Regions from separate parts of the Homo sapiens genome. Here region 2 is linked to region 1. The links come from fine-mapping of genetic effects on gene expression. Tissue or cell type: adrenal gland. Region 1 holds a variant in brackets; the other region holds the start of a gene. All regions are shown on one strand. Distances are between the middles of the regions.

What was found. PIP is the estimated chance that this variant, and not a neighbour inherited with it, causes the effect.
Region 2: it holds the start of MED10, and the variant in region 1 is fine-mapped to the expression of MED10 in adrenal gland (GTEx, PIP above 0.99).

The regions. Positions count from the first base shown.
Region 1 is chr5:6,561,827-6,569,934 of GRCh38, forward strand. No RefSeq gene overlaps it. Among named protein-coding and RNA genes, the nearest start is that of LINC01018, 16 kb to the right of the region's middle. The variant G/A (reference allele first, on the strand shown) is at 4,151.
Region 2 is chr5:6,375,203-6,383,292 of GRCh38, forward strand. MED10 (mediator complex subunit 10) reads right to left here and starts at 3,345. Exons shown (of 4, transcript NM_032286.3): 1 at 3,160-3,345; 2 at 1,964-2,047. The coding sequence starts at 3,281. RefSeq lists enhancers at 3,080-3,289, 3,580-3,799.

The DNA of each region.
Region 1 (8,108 bases):
GAAAGATTACAAGTGTTGATGAGAATGTGGAGAAATTTGAACCTTTTTGTACTGTTGATGGGAATGAAAAATGGTACAGCCACTATGGGAAACAGCATGGAGGTTTCTCAAAAAGTTAAAAACAGAAAAACAGAAATACCATATGAAATCCCTCAATTGAGTATGTATCCAGAAGAATTGAAATCAAGATCTCAGAGAGATATTTACATTTTCACGTTCACTGCAGCATTACTCACAATAGCCATGATGTAGAAGCAACCTAAATGTTTATCAAAAAGAAATTATATATATACACATACACACAATGGAATATTAGTCAGCCTTTTGAAAAACAAATCTTGTCATATGAGACAACATGAAAGAAACTTGATGTCTTTAAGCTAAGTGAAATAAGCCAGTCACAGAAGGACAAAAATTACATGATTCTATTTATTTGGGGTATCTAAAATAGTCAAACACATAGACGATTATAGTAGAATGGTGCTATGGTTTGAATATCCCCTCCAAAACTCATGCTGAAACTTAATATTGAGAGGTGGGGCCTTTAAAGGTAATTGGATCATGAGGGCTTGGCCCTCATGAAGGATTAACCCATTCATGAATGGATTAATGGGTTAATGAACTACCATGTGAGGGAAACTGGTAGCTTTAAAACAAGAGGAAGAAAGATCTGAGATAGCACACTCAGTCCCTCACCATGGGATTCCCTGTGCTGCCTCAGGACTCTGCAGAGCCCCCACCAGCAAGAAGCTCTTACCAGATATGATCCCTCGACCTTGGACTTCTCAGCCTCCATAACTCTGAGAAGTAAATTTTTTTCTTTATGAATTACCCAGTTTCAGGTATTCTGTTATAAGCAACAGAAAATGTTCTAAGATATATGGCAACCCCCAGGGGCTGGGGGAAGAGGGAAATGGGAAGTTGTTATTTGATGGTTATGAAGTTTGAGTTATACACGATGCCTAAATTCTAGAGATCTACAGTGTGGAATTGTGTCTATAGTTAACAACATTGTATTGTACATTTCAGAATCTGTTAAGAGGATAGATCTCATTTTAAGTGTTCTTATCGCAGTTTTTAAAACTATATAAAAGAATATCATATTATATGAGTCTTTTGAGACCTGCTTTCTCATGCAACATTATGTTACTATGATGCATCCATGTGTTGAATCTGGCTGTAGTTCATTCCTTTTCAATTCTGTATAATAGTTTATTATATGAATAGATTCAGATCTGTATGGGCCTTTGGGATGTTTCCAGGTTTTTGCTATTAAAATCAGAGCTGCTACAAGCATTCTTCTTCATAACTTACATGCATTTGCAAGCATTTGTCTTAGGTACATATACCTACAAATGGAATTGCCAGATTGCAGGGTATGCTAATATTCAAATTTACAAGATTAATTTGCAAAATGGTTGTACTAATTGAAGTTCCCACCAGTAAAGTATAAAATATACTCTTGATCCATTCTTCTCCAATACTTGGTAGTATCAGATTTCTTGGTTTTGCCAATCAAAATTTGGTATGCAATGCTATGTTAGTGTGTGACTAGAATGTCCCTGATTACTAGTGATATGTATCATCTCTTCATAGCTTATTGGCTCCCTGTATTTTTTCTTCTTTGAAATGCTTGTTCATGATTTTACCCAATTTTTTAAAATTAAATTGTCTTTTTTTAATTAATTTTTAGAAGTTTGTTTCATATAGTTTGTGTTGGTACTTTCTGCAGGAAATGTGTTTTCTTTAACTTGCAAAATTCATCAATGTTTCAGAGTTTAGGCTTTTTGTGCCTCTTTTAAGAAATATTTTCCTATCCCAGGGTCAGGAAAATAACCACCTATATTTTCCTCTAAAAATTTTGTTTTGCTTTTGATATTTCAAATTTTTATTGTATATGCTGTGAGGTAGAGATCCAGTTTACTTTTTTCTACATAAGCAATGGAAAACTAGCTTTTCCCACACCATCGACTACACAGTCTCCCCTTCAGCCAATGATCTTTCATCCCACTGATGTCATATATCAAGTAGTCCTACTCTGTGGTTCTGTTTCTGGTGTTCTATTCTGAGTCATTGCTCAGTTTCTTATCCTTGTACCAGCACCACACTGTCTTAACTACTGCAGCTTAATAAATAGGTCTTAACCTTGATAGGCAAATCCTCCTTCTCCGTATTTCATTTTTAGAAGATTGAAGGCTATTCTTATCCCTTTGATCTTCTCTACACATGTTAAAATCCAGGTTTATGAGAACCCTGTTGTGATTTTTATTGGCACTGCATTAAATCTAGAGATCTATTGGAAGAGAATTATCTTTACCATACATAAAGTTTCCCTACTCATAAGCACAGGATATATATCCATTTATTTGGTACTTCTTTAAAATATTTGTGTATACAGGTTTTCTGTGTGGGTCTTACAAATGATTTCTTAGATTTATTTCAAGACAATCTGCAGCATTTTATTCTATAATTTTTTCTATAACTTTTTTACTATTGACTTCTGTGTATTGATTTTATATCCAGCCACCTTCCTGAACATATTTTTTTTTTTTTTTTTGAGACGGAGTCTTGCTCTATCGCCCAGGTTGGAGTGCAGTGGAGCAATCTCGGCTCACTGCAAGCTCCACCTCCTGGGTTCACGCCATTCTCCTGCCTCGGCCTCCTGAGTAGCTAGGACTATAGGCGCCTGCCACCATGCCCGGCTTTTTTTGTATTTTTAGTAGAGATGGGATTTCACAGTATTAGCCAGGATAGTCTCGATTTCCTGACCTTGTTATCCGCCTGCCTCAGCCTCCCAAAGTGCTGGGATTACAGGTTTGAGCCACCGCGCCCAGCCTAAACATATTTTATTTATAATAATTTATAGAATTTTGGGTAATCTCTATAGATAATCATATCACCTGCAAATAATGACAAATTTCTCTCTTTTTCTATCATATGCTATTAATTCCTGTTCCTATATAATGTCAAAGAGAAGCATAGTAGTATAGGACATCCTTGTCTTGCTATTTTTAAACTAGGTGCTTCCAATATTTTATCATTATAATGATTCTTTTTGTATATCTTTAGATAATTCTTTATCAGGTCAGGAACATTTACTGTTAGTTACTCCTAGTTTTAAAAGAAGGTTTTTATTTCTCATTTCGAATGGGTAATTTTATCAAACGATTTTTCTATATCTACTGAGATGATTTCCTCTTTCAAAACAGTAATGATTTTTACATTTTCCAATATTAAATCATCTTTGAGTTCCTAGGCAATTTCTACATATTAATTTTCATTTTTCTACACTGTAGGGTGCAGCTTGCTATTTTGTTAGGATCCTTCCATCCATCTTCATAAGTGAGATGGGCTTACAATTTGGTTTTCTTGAACTGTCCTTGTTTAGTTTTGGTTTTAAGGTCAGACCTGGCTCATCAAATGAGGGAGGAAAATTCTCTCGAATAAACTAACTTTTCTAAATCAGCTTATTGGCCTCCTCAAACAAACCTGTTCATCCCAGTGAGCAAGATGGGAAAGAATTCAAAATGGGACAAGAGGGGCATTTTATAGTTATTAATATATACACAAGCAAGTGTTTTTTGGAGACTGAGTATGTCAGTGTTCCTCAGCTTGGACACAAATTAAAATCACTTGGGGATCTTTTATAAAAATGCTTATGAGGGACCCACCAGCTCAATTAAATTTGAATCTCAGGGGGATTGGGCCAAGCCATTGTAATTATGAAGAGCCCCCTTGAGTAAGTCTAATCTGCAGCTAGGGTTAGAAATGTTTTTCCATGTAGCAATCTCACATGCTGTCTGTCACCTTACAGTGAACCAGTCCATCAGTTTATCAACAAACAAGCATTTGCCAACTGCTGGCATATTTCCAGAAACACAACAGGCTTAATTGAATTGGTATAATACGGTTCTTTTCTCCACGTACAGGCCCACTGGGAAGAAAGAGTGACCACCTTGGTTTCAGTTAGAGAACAATCGATTAAAACAATCTTTGTGTTAACAATGATGCTGATCACAACATAAACACAGACAGTTGATAATATGCTATTGAATAAATTATGGCTCATTTATTCAATGAAACCTAGTCAACTACAAAAAGATGTTAGTAATCTAGCGTTCATGCAGATGACAAAACTGTAGGTGCTAAC[G/A]TCACATTTTGTAACATATCTTGATATAGAAAAAAGTTAAATGAATAAAGAACAAATAACAGTATTAATTGCCATGTGTTAAAAAAGAAGAATTGTTCAAAGGGTACAAAGTTTTAGGCAGGAGGAATAAGTTTTAGTGATCTATTAATAATAATATATTTTATATTTCAAAATCGCTAAATGTTCTCACCACAAAAAAAAGGTAAGTATGTGAGGTGATGGATATGTTAATTAGCTTTATTTACTCCACAATCTATACATATATTTTAACATCACACTGAATCCCATAAATATATACAATTATTATTTGTCAATTTAAAATAAAATAAGAAAATACGAATTATTTCATTTTGCTTTCATTTTTTCCCAGCCTCTTTGCAATGCATTGGAATTTCTTATGCAAAAAAAATGCAAAATGTAACAAGAGAGAGTTACGTAGTGGTTTATTTTATTTAAGTCATTTTGATTATAAGAAAAATTTTGCTCCTTTTGGCTCTAGCGCAGAGGAGCAGAGGTTTTGAATGGAACTTTCACATTAAGAACTGAACAAAGTCCAGTTAGCCTAGAATTAGAACCCAGAAATTCAGGTGTAGCGCCTTCTCTGGGCTCCTCTCTTCAACAGCCTGCTCCTTCCTCAGTTTCCCTAGAAGTCTAGTTAGCTTGAGAGTGTAACTTGCCATGGAGTGGTACAGACTGTAGCCATGGCAACATGATCTTTTGAATACAGTGCCCATCCCTTTGGGCAAGTTGCTCCATCTTCCCAAGCCTTAGTTTGTCATGTGCAAATAAAGATATAATAGAACAACATCCAATATATGTTTGAGAATGATATTTCTAGCAAAGTCCCTGTTGCATCAAAAACTTTCCCCAAATGTTCACTATAAAATGTTTACGTCCTTTCTTGTTGAAGATGTGCAACCAAGCTTCAGCATGTCCATGTTATGAGGGCACAGGGAGCCCAGGATCAGGGCCCACCTGGGCATGAATGGTGCCTGTGGACTTGCAGAGTCATTCTGGGTAGAGGGCAGCATGCAATAGGATATTACCTAGCCGTAAAAAGAAAACAAATTCCAACACATGCGACAACATGAATGAACCTTGAGGACATTATGCTAAATGAAATAAGCCAATCCCACAAACAAAAAGCAAATATGGTGACTCCACTTATACAAGAGACCTAGAATAGGCAAATTCATGGAGACAGGAAGTAGAATAGCAGTGACCAGGGCTGGGCAGAGAGGGGAATGGGGAGTTATTGTTTAATAGCCTAGAGTTTCCGTTTAGGATGAGGAAAATATTTTGAAACGGTAATGATAGTGGCACAACATCATGAATGTACTTAACCCCACAGAATTGTACACTTAAAATGATTAAACAGCTCTGGGCATGGCGGCTCACGCCTGTAATCCAAGTACTTTGGGAGGCTGAGACAGGCAGGTAAGGAGGTCAGGAGGACCTGAGGTCAGGAGTTCAAGACCAGACTGGCCAACATGGCGAAACCCCATCTCTACTAAAAATACAAAAATTAGCCAGGCATGGTGGCACACGCCTGTAATCTCAGCTACTCAGGAGGCTGAGGCAGGAGAATCACGTGAACCTGGGAGGTGGAGGTTGCAGTGAGTCGAGATTGCGCCACTGCATTCCAGCCTATGGGACAGAGTGAGACTCGGTCTCAAAAAAAAAAAAAAAAAAAGATTAAACTGACAAATGTTTTATAATATATATATGTGTGTGTGTGTGTGTGTGTGTGTGTGTGTGTGTGTGTGTGTGTGTATATATATATATAACTACAATAATAAAACTAAAACAAACAAAAAATCCCACAAATTTATCATCTCATGTTGTCTGTGGAGCCTGGGACTCAGGGGCTCACCAGGCTGAAATGAAGGTTTCAGTAAACTGTTCTTGTCTGGAGGCTTCCCTGGGGAAAGATCCACCCCCCATCTTTTTGGGGTTATAGGGAATTTAGCAGGACTGAGGTCTCTGTTGTCTTTCTAGCTACCAGCCAGGGACCACTCTCAGCTTCTAAAGGCTACCCACAGGCCCCTGCCATATGGCATCTGGCAAGGGTCCCTCAGATGTGCCATCTCTTGCTCCAGGAAGGGATTGTCCCTTTTAAGGATTCACCTGATCAGGTCAGGCTTACCAGGGTAATCTTGCTTTTGATAACTCAAAGTCAACTGATTGGCAGCCTTCTCATGGGCATGATGTCCCATCACATTCTGAGGGGCTGCCTGCCACCCAGGGAAGGGGATTACCCAGGGCATACCCACCAGGGAACAGGAATCCTGAAGGCCATCTTAGAACTCTGCCCATCACACCTTCCCATGCCCATAAGATGTTTCACTGCATCTCATTTACCCGAAAGCACCCAGGTGATAACAGGTGCACACTGAGGTTCTCCACTTAGTTTGTGGAGCCTCGGGGGAAAAAAGGTTTTAGTCTGGGGTGTTGAAGGAATAAAGATGAGTCTTGACTTTTCCGAAGGGCCCTGCCTCTGTGTAACACCTGGGAAGCATCACTTGTAAGACACGCGCATTTGGAAGGGCCAGCACGAGCTGCTCCATCTCACTGGACAATGAGGTCCCTGGTGGTTTCCAATTAGGCTGAGCTCATTGGCTTAATAGTCCGGCCCCAGCTGTTGCCTGGGCTTGAAAGAAAGAAAACTGGGTCAAGCAAATGATTTCAGGCATTCAGAGCAGTTATTTCCACTAACCAGCCTGTCTGCCCTCTGGATACTGTCAGTGCTTTGAGAATGGGCTGGGTTATAGTTTCTCCACCATGGCTGCCCATCAAGACCACCCAGGGACCCACCCACCTAGACCTGTCATCTTAGGTTCTCTAAGGTGGGCCCAGGGTTTTCTCAAAGCCACTCGGGTGATTCTAATGGCCAGCCAGGGTGGAGAACCACTAGATTGGATAATCATTTGGGAAACCACTTCTCACAAGATGAAAATTAAAATACCAGTTGACTTTGTTGAAGGGGATTCAGTTTATTAGAGCAAGAAGTAGAGCCCTGCAGGGCGTGGAAATGCATTTTGGAAAGAAATGCAAATGGGGAGGAAATGGCTTGTTTCAGGACATCCAGATGCATTCTATGAGTGCGCATCGAGTACTCCCAAGTGCAGGGTGCTAAGACACAGACAGTTGTGCACAAGCTCAACAGGGGCCCTGCCTCCTGGAGCTGATAGTCCCCTGGAAATCAGACGGGAAGAAGGGGAAAGACGGGAAGGGGAAAGACGGGAGAGGGAGGGGATAATACAGTAGCAACACAATGTGTCCTTCAAGCTGCTAAGATCCTGAGCTTGTTTTTAAACTGGAGCACAGCAGAATTCAACTCTGCCTTTAGGTGAGAAAAATCACATCACATTTGTGTTAAGAGAAAACACATCCTGAAAATTTATGAATGAAATGATAGTGTCTCGTGTGTGTGTGTGTGTGTGCATCAGGGGACCAGTCTGCATAGATATAACTAGATTAGACAAAGGTTGTCACTTGTTGGAGCTGGGTGACAGCTGCATGAGGAAGGGTCATTGTGCCATTCTCCCCACTTTTGTATGATTGATATTTTCCATAAAAGAAACTTAACTAAATTAAATTAATAAATCAAGAGACAAAAGAATGACATATTCTGATGGTTAATACAGTGTCAACTTGATTGGACTGAAGGATGCAAAGTATTGATCCTGGGCGTGTCTGTGAGGGTGTTGCCAAAGGAGATTAACATTTGACTCAGTGGGCTGGGAAAGGTCGACCTACCCTTAATCTGGGTGGACACCATCTAATCAGCTGCCAGTATGGCTAGAACATAAAGCAGGCAGTAAAATATGAAAAGACTACACGGGCCTAGCCTCCCAGCCTACATCTTTCTCTCATGCCAGATGCTTCCTGCCCTCGAACATTGGACTCCAAGTTCTTCAGTTTTGGGACTCAGAATGGCTCTCCTTGCTCCTCAACT
Region 2 (8,090 bases), 190 kb before region 1:
TTTACCAAGAGCAGGCCACCTACCTTTTTCTGTACCCTAAAGAAATCCTTATCATTCAACTAAACTGAATCATTCATTATTTAAAAAACAAAAAACAAAAACTGAAAACTAACTCTACTTTCGAATTTTATAATTGAGGCCAAAAATATATAATCACTTCAGAACAAGATATCATTAGGTTACTACTAATGGTATAAAAAGTAGCCTTGATAGATAGCAAAAGATAAAAACATCACAAGTTCTAGAAATTCTATTTCATTTCAGTGTTTTTGAAATAATGTAATGTGGCAAAATTATGGTTAATTCTAAACAAAATCTATCCATTTCTCAAGAAAAACCTGACAGGCTCACAGAATAAGGTTAACCATGTCAGCTGACGGTCGTTTCTTCAACAGCATGGACATCCTGCTCAGACTTGGTTCTTTGAAGACCGAAGGGTGAACCCACTCCTGCCCACACACAAAGTCCTGGAGACAAGGGCCAAGCTGCTTTCACCTTAGCTAAAGACACAGTTGGTGTGTATGAAAATGTACACGCTGCAAAGGCCACTGGGACCTGGAAATTCCTTCTACATTGGGTAGACACCAACCACCGATTTGCAGATAAACTCCCAGCATCTGCTCTGTATTAGGGCTCACTGGCATACTCTTCCTGATACCCCAGGTCAATCTCATCCATCCCCGTGCCCAGCACTTCCCTCGGCCCTTAAGCAGTCTGTTCACATCAGTCTCCATTTGTTCTGCTTCAGAAGACACAAGTAGTTACTTGCCACTTGTCACTATATGCATCCCCTGCATTCATAATCAGAAGAGCACAAAGGAGGATGCTCTGTATTCCTGGACTGAGAAAGCCAAAGCTGAGTCTGGAGCTACCTGAGGTGCAAGACCTTCGTCCCACCTGAAGTCAGAGACCTCAGTGGTGCCCACTGAGCACAGGTAAGGAACATGGGGCAAAGTCATCAGCAGGTGAACAGAAGATCAGAGACCAAGAAAACCACCTCTGTGTCCTGTCTTTGTAGGCAGCTGCTGCACTATAGCTAGAACTTGTATCTCTGACCTTTTGGGATGGAAAACAGCCATAACTCTTTCCCTTTACTGCTTAACGAAATCTAGTGATTTACATTTGCAGTTTTGCTGCAAGAAATACTAGAATGTTCTTGCTGTTCCAAGCCAGCACCATCAGGGAGAGGCTGCTTTGCACTGGTCAAGAAAGTATGAGTCCGGGGGTTTCGTCTTAACTCTGACACTTACTAGGTAAACAACCTATTGCAGTTACTTATCAGGTCCTTCATGTGTGAAATCAGAGATGTGACCAAATCAATGCAAGAAAACCTGGATTTTAAAAATCTAAAAGCTCATTCCTGTATGTGTTCTCAGGACTATTACTAACATAGGTGCACACAACTCTCGCACAGAAAACAGTGAGCAGCCTCCCCAAACATACTTGGAATAAGAACCCTTTCTTTCCTCCTTCGACAGAGCAGATATTTTCACCTCTCAGAACTAGCACTCCACGGGCAGTTTGGGAACATCAGACCAGCTTGCTTTTCAGGTGCTTCTGGCTGCCATTTTTTAAAAATTTACAATATAGCCCTCATAGGACTTTTCACCTCTTAAGGAAAAAAGAAAGTTTTGTGGCTGTTCTTTAGCCTAAGCAGGGCTTTGAGGACCTATGATGTATTTCATATATTTAATAAGCTTTTATTTACATGTAACTTTTTTTCCACAATAGAATATTAAGGATATTCTTTTTTTTCGTTTTGTAATGCCATTAGAACGGAAGTTCCATAAGGGCAGGTATTTTTGTATTTTTGTCTATTTTTTTTTCCACTGGCACATCCCCAGCACCCAGGCTGTGCCTACCACACAGCAGGCACTCGAATGCCAGTGATGAAGAAGTCACGATACCACACCATAACTGAACAAGATTTATACCCAAGACTAATATCAAGAATGTTACTTACTCAAAAACTTCTAACGGTACAGTAATATCATGAAGCTGCTGTCTGCACTTGTCAATATCCTGTAAGCCAGTAACAATAAAATTCCTGGGGGAAAGGCAAACACACAGGCATCTGGTTAATTTCGCTTGACAGCATAAGCACCACCCACAGAGCTACCCAGCCAACCGGGGCTCCACGCAAGTTCGTTCTCCTCACAGCTATGCGGGTTACACACGGTTCTGACCTCTTTGGTTAGCTACAGGATTCCTAGGACACCGTTAGAGTTACAAAATACCCTTAAATATTTGTTACTTTCCTTCTCAACTAGAAATTGCCAGTAAGGGGGATGGAGAGGGAACCTGATGAAAAATATGAACCTTCTCTCAAAAACAATTACCTGACTGTGCATATGACTGTGTGTGCGGTTTCAGCGAACACATGAGGCAGCGGACTATACTCAAAGTCTGAGGGAAAGAAAGCCATACTGTCTGGTTTAGCTTCCTCTCCTCTCTGGAGCCTTCCTACAGCATCAGGCTGGTCTGGCTATTCCCACAGCACTAGGTATGGAACCTCGAGTGCAACATTTTCTATGTCCGTGCCACATATAAAGCCCTTCTCGAAAGTGCTGTACTTGCATTTGCCTTTTCTCCAACCCAGGGCCTAGCAACATGGGCAGCACAAGGCTGTTGCCAAGAAATAATAATAATAAACGTTCTGCAACCTTTCTCAGCACCACCTCCCCGCTATTTCCTCCACTGTCAGGCCTATGCGGCAGGTGGCTTCGGAGCCTCACCTTCTGAGGCCTAGTTTAGGGCGTGCACTCACTGTGGAGCCTGCCTCCCCTCTGGAGACAGGGACTGAATTCCCAGAAGGGCTCCAGGAGGAAAAGGCTGGGAGGGGGTTACACATGAGAGGGGAGACGCTAGAAGAGAAAGCATGATTCCCTTGATAGGGAAACGTAAAGTATATCATCTGGCCATGACGACGTCTCCAAAGGGGCCTCAAAGAGGTTGGCTCTTGGCAACAGGCTGGAGCGCGGGCCCCGCCCTCTGAACACAGCCAGGAAAGGCGCCCCGGGCTCCGGGACCAGACCAGAGGGCTGGCGGGGCACGAGTAGCGGTCAGGCTCGGCTCGGGCTCCCTAGATCCCCGCTCCCCTAGCACACGCTTCCCGGCCAGGCCCTGGGGAGACCCCGGCAGCCTCGGGCCGCCACTCACAGCTTTTGGTTGAGCCCGGCCTGGCTGCTGGGCTGGAAGTCACTGACGATGATGCCGAGCTGCCGAATGTTCTCCACGAACTTCTCCAGGTGCTCCTCTAGGTGGTCAAACTTCTCCGCCATCGCCTCGGCCCGTCCCCGACCCACACAGCCTCAACCAGCAGCGCCGCAGGCGTGGCCCTACGCTCCCGCTTCCTGCTTCCGTCCGGACAGATACGACTTCCGTTTCCTCTGGGGGAGCGCGGGCGAGCTCTTGGGGGCGGAGCCTCGTTATCGGGACGGGCGTGTTGGGGCGGGGCCTAAGTGCGGGGCAGGGCGGGCTTTCGGGGATGCGGTCTGGATTCTGGAGGAGGCCTCGGCGCGCAGCTGGGCGAGTACTAACTGTTTGCACTCTCATCAGACCTGCCTCGGTCATGGGAGAAGTTGAAGACTTTCTGCAATGCAGCATCTTCAAGCAATACACACATGGATGAAAATCCTAAAGTTTGCATGAAGGACCAATAACGGTAGTTTCCCTGCCCCTCTACCAGAACCCCTGGGATCAGCGCCTGCCTGCCTCCTTTCTTCTATGTAATCGGCGGCCACCTCCCCTAGCTCTTGCTGCTAACCATGCTTCCCGGACACCTGCTGCCTTCGTAGGTCAGGGTCTCACCTCCTCGGGCCAATTCTGACCAAACAGCACCCTGTGGGGTTGCCCTGTCTTAGTAAACTGCTGTTTATCTCATTGAAATTCAGTTTAGGTCATTTCACTCTTATGTTTAAGAAACTTTTCTGCCCGATCTCCTATGATAGCGGATATCTCCTCTAGCCTGTTTGAATTTCTCAAGTGATTTATTTTACTGAATATATTTGTGGCCTGTACTTTTCAGTGCCTAGAAACAGGCAAAGTGAGGGAGCTCCTTTGCTAGATGATCTTCAGAGCCTCTCCCAGCTGTGACCAGAAATGGAAAGCCAGAGAAGGTAAGTGACTTGCCAAACTTATGGAATCAGGGCACTCCAGTTGGTGGGCTGGGCTGATAAACAGAAATGTTACATAAAATACTTCTCTCCTGATTTAACAACAATTAACTTTAGGGAATTATAAAACAAGATGGAGGCTGGGCGTGGTGGCTCAGGCCTGTAATCCCAGAACTTTGGAAGGCCAAGGCAGGTGGATTACCTGAGGTGAGGAGTTCGAGACCGACCTGACCAATATGGAGAAACCCTGTCTCTACTAAAAATACAAAAATTAGTCAGACATGGTGGTGTGCGCCTGTAGTCCCAGCTACTTGGGAGGCTGAGACAGGAGAATTGCTTGAACCCAGGAGGCAGAGGTTGCAGTAAGCCGAGATCATGCCACTGCACTCCAGCCTGGGCAACAGAGCAAGACTCAAAAAAAAAAAAAAAAGGTGGAAATAAAATATTAGACAAATAAAAAATTTTAAGTTATTAGGTAGAGGTAGCGACATGGAGTGAACGGCCTTTCTCAATTTCATAAGTAAGAAAGATAGATAATTGATGGAACTTAGGCTTTGGTAAGTATTTATTTTAAAAATTTAAGGGTATCTCTTTGCTAGTATATATAATTCCCAAACTAGTAGACAGGGGGAAGGGAATAAAGAAAACACAATCAACTCAATAGAAGGCAAGAAAAGAAGAGAATAAAGAAGCAAAGAACAAGCATGGAAAATAAAACTCACAACGTAAAGTGCAAAAATTAAAGGCACACGACTCAACAGCAAAAAAGCAAAAGAAGAAATTTATAAATGGGCAAAGGACCTGAACAGATACTTCTCAAAAGAAGACATAAAAATGACCAGCAAAAATGCTCAGCATCACATATCATCAGGGAAATACAAATTAAAAGCATAATGAGATGTCACCTTACACTGTTAGAAGGGCTATAATCAAAAAGACCAAAGACAATGGGTGTGGGTGAAAATGTGGAGGAAAGGGAACCCTTGTACACTGTTGATGGGAATGTAAATTAGTGCAGCCTTTATGGAAAATAGAATGGAAGTTTCCCAAAACTCTAAAAACAGAATTACCATATGATCCAGCAGTCCTACTTCTGAGTATATACTGTGAACCCTGAATATCTGAGACAGTTCTCAGTTAATTTAGAAAGTTTATTTTGCCAAGGTTGAAGACACACACTCATGACACGGCCTCAGGAGGTCCTGATGACATGAGCCCAAGGTGGTCAGGGCACAGCTTGGTTTTATACATTTTAGGGAAACATGAGACATAAATCAATATGTAAGTGTAAGGTATACACTGGTTCTGTCCAGAAAGGCGGGAAAACTCAAAGCAGGGAGGGGGCTTCCAGGTCACTGGTAGGTGAAAGACAAATAGTTACATTATTTTGAGTTTCTGATTTGCCTTTCCAAAGGAGGCAATCAGATATGCACCTATCTCAGTGAGCAAAGGGATCACTTTGAATAGAATGGGAGGCAGGTTGTCCCTGAGCATTTTCCAGCATGACTTTTCCCTTTAGCTTAGTGATTTGGGGGCCCCAAAATTTATTTTCCTTTCACAATACTCAAAGGAATTGAAATCACTATGTCAAAGAGATATCTGTGTTTCCAGAAAGAGGTCCCAGTCCAGACCCCGAGAGAGTTCTTGGATCTTGTGAAAGAAGGAATTCAGGGTGAGTCCATATAGTAAAGTAAAAGCAAGTGTATTAGTAAAATAAAGGAATAAAGAATGGCTACTCCATAGGCAGAGCGGCCCGAGGGCTACTGGTTACTTGCTGTTATGGTTATTTCTTGATTGTATGCTAAGCAAGTGGTGGCTTATTTATGCCTCCCCGTTTTAGACCATTTAGGGTAACTTCCTAACAGGTCATGGCATTTGGAAACTGTCAGGGCAGTGGTGGGAGTATAGCAGTGAGAACTCTCGTTGCCATCTTGGTTTTGGTGGGGTTTAGCTGGCTTCTTTACAGCAAACTGTTTTATCAGTGAGGTGTTTATGACCTGTATTTGGTGCCGACCTCCTATCTCATCTTGTGACTTAGAATGCCTAACCATCTGGGAATGCAGCCCAGTAGGTTTGTTTCAGCCTTATTTTACCCAGCTCCTATTCAAGATGGAGTTGCTCTGCTTCAAATGCCTCTAACATCTGTACCCCATAAAAATAGACAATTATTATTTGTTAATTAAAAATAAAATTAAAAAGTGTATCATGAACTGTGTTCCCTGTCATTAAATGTGTGCCTTCCCCACTAAAAACATACGTTAGTGAACACAGTAAATGTTAACAGATTTAACATTTAATTAATTTAATTAATTAATTAATTATTTAATTTAACATTTAACTGTTAGTCTATCCTAACAGTTAAATGTTAACAGATTTAACTGTTAGGGTAGACTCTCAGATTAGAATCCAATTGGAAGTGTTTTGTTTTGTTGTTTTAATCTAGCTATGTTGCTTTTCAAAGGTACACCTAAAACAAACTTATAGACAGGTTGAAAATAAAGAGGGAGGATAGAATAATATATGGCAGGCAACCAAAAGAAAGTTGTTAATGCATATAAAAGTTAGTAAAGAAACATTAAAAAGATGCTTTTAATGGTAAAGAGAAGACTCATTAAAGATAGAATACTATTCACCTATAAGCAACTGACAACATAGTCCCATATTATCTAGCACAAAAATTGACAAAATATGAGGAAAAATTCAAAATCCATAATTATTACAGAGGATTTGGAGTACCTCTATCAGAAAACAATAAATCAAGTAGGCCAAAAAGCATATGAAGAATATGGAAGACTTAAGTAATATATTAAGAATTGTGATCTCTGAAAAACAGTGACCCCTGAAGAATAGATTGTTTCCAAGCACATTTCAAATACTTACAAAAACTTGACCATTCCCTAGACCACAAAGAAAGTTTCAGCAAACTCAGATCCTATCACATAGACCAGATTTTCTGACCTCGTAATTCCAGTAGAAATCTATGAATTTATTCATTTTCTACACATACATACACGTTCGAAAATCAAAACACACTCTAAATAATTCATGAGTTTACATACATCTGAGAATGGGCAAGACCCAATTATGTCTGTTGTCTTCGTGTGATTATTAATAGCACTCTTCCACTCACTGTCAAACATGTCCCAGTTTGGTTGATACGTTATGTGGACATCCTATTTAAAAGGAAAATTATAAAACATTTGGAATTAAATGACAAGAATTCCCTGTCAAACTTCTGCTTTACTCCTGAGGTAATAATTTGAGGGAAAACAGCCTGGAAAAAATAAACTGGAGTTTCAACTCAAAGAGTAGGATAAAAAGAATCAAAAGGGAAATCACAGGCACCAAAAAATACATAAAAAGGGGTGACAAAAGTAAAGACAGACACTGATGAAAATGAGAACTATTGCATTAGTTTTCTGTCTAGCTGCATTCGAAGCTGGAAAGATAAAAATGAAGAAAAGTTGATTGTTGAAAAGATGAGTCAAATATATATACTTCTGGCAAGTCTCATCAGAGAAGAAGAAAAGAAAGGTGCTAAAAGAGAAAAATATACAGTATTATAAATGAGTGAGGGTGAGGGTAAAACTTATATGTTCATAATTTTGAAAGCTTAGAAGATATAAACAATTTTCTAGGAAACTACCAGAAATTAACTTAAGAAAAATAAACAATTAGAATAGTTCCTAGTCTTTCAATAAACTGGCCAGTAGGCAAAAATCTCTTTCAAAGATAGGAGAGACATAAGCTCGGACAGTTTTTTATACTAATTGTTTAAAAATCAAACATTAAAGAACAAATAATTTCAAACTTACCCAGATACATTCAGAGACTAGAAAAAGAAGAAATACATCCCAGCTCATTTTGAAAGAGCAGTATAACTTTTATATGAAAATCATCAAGGACAATACAAGAAAATATAGGTCAATCTTCCTTATGAAAGTAGATACAAAAGTCTTAAGTAAGATATTATCA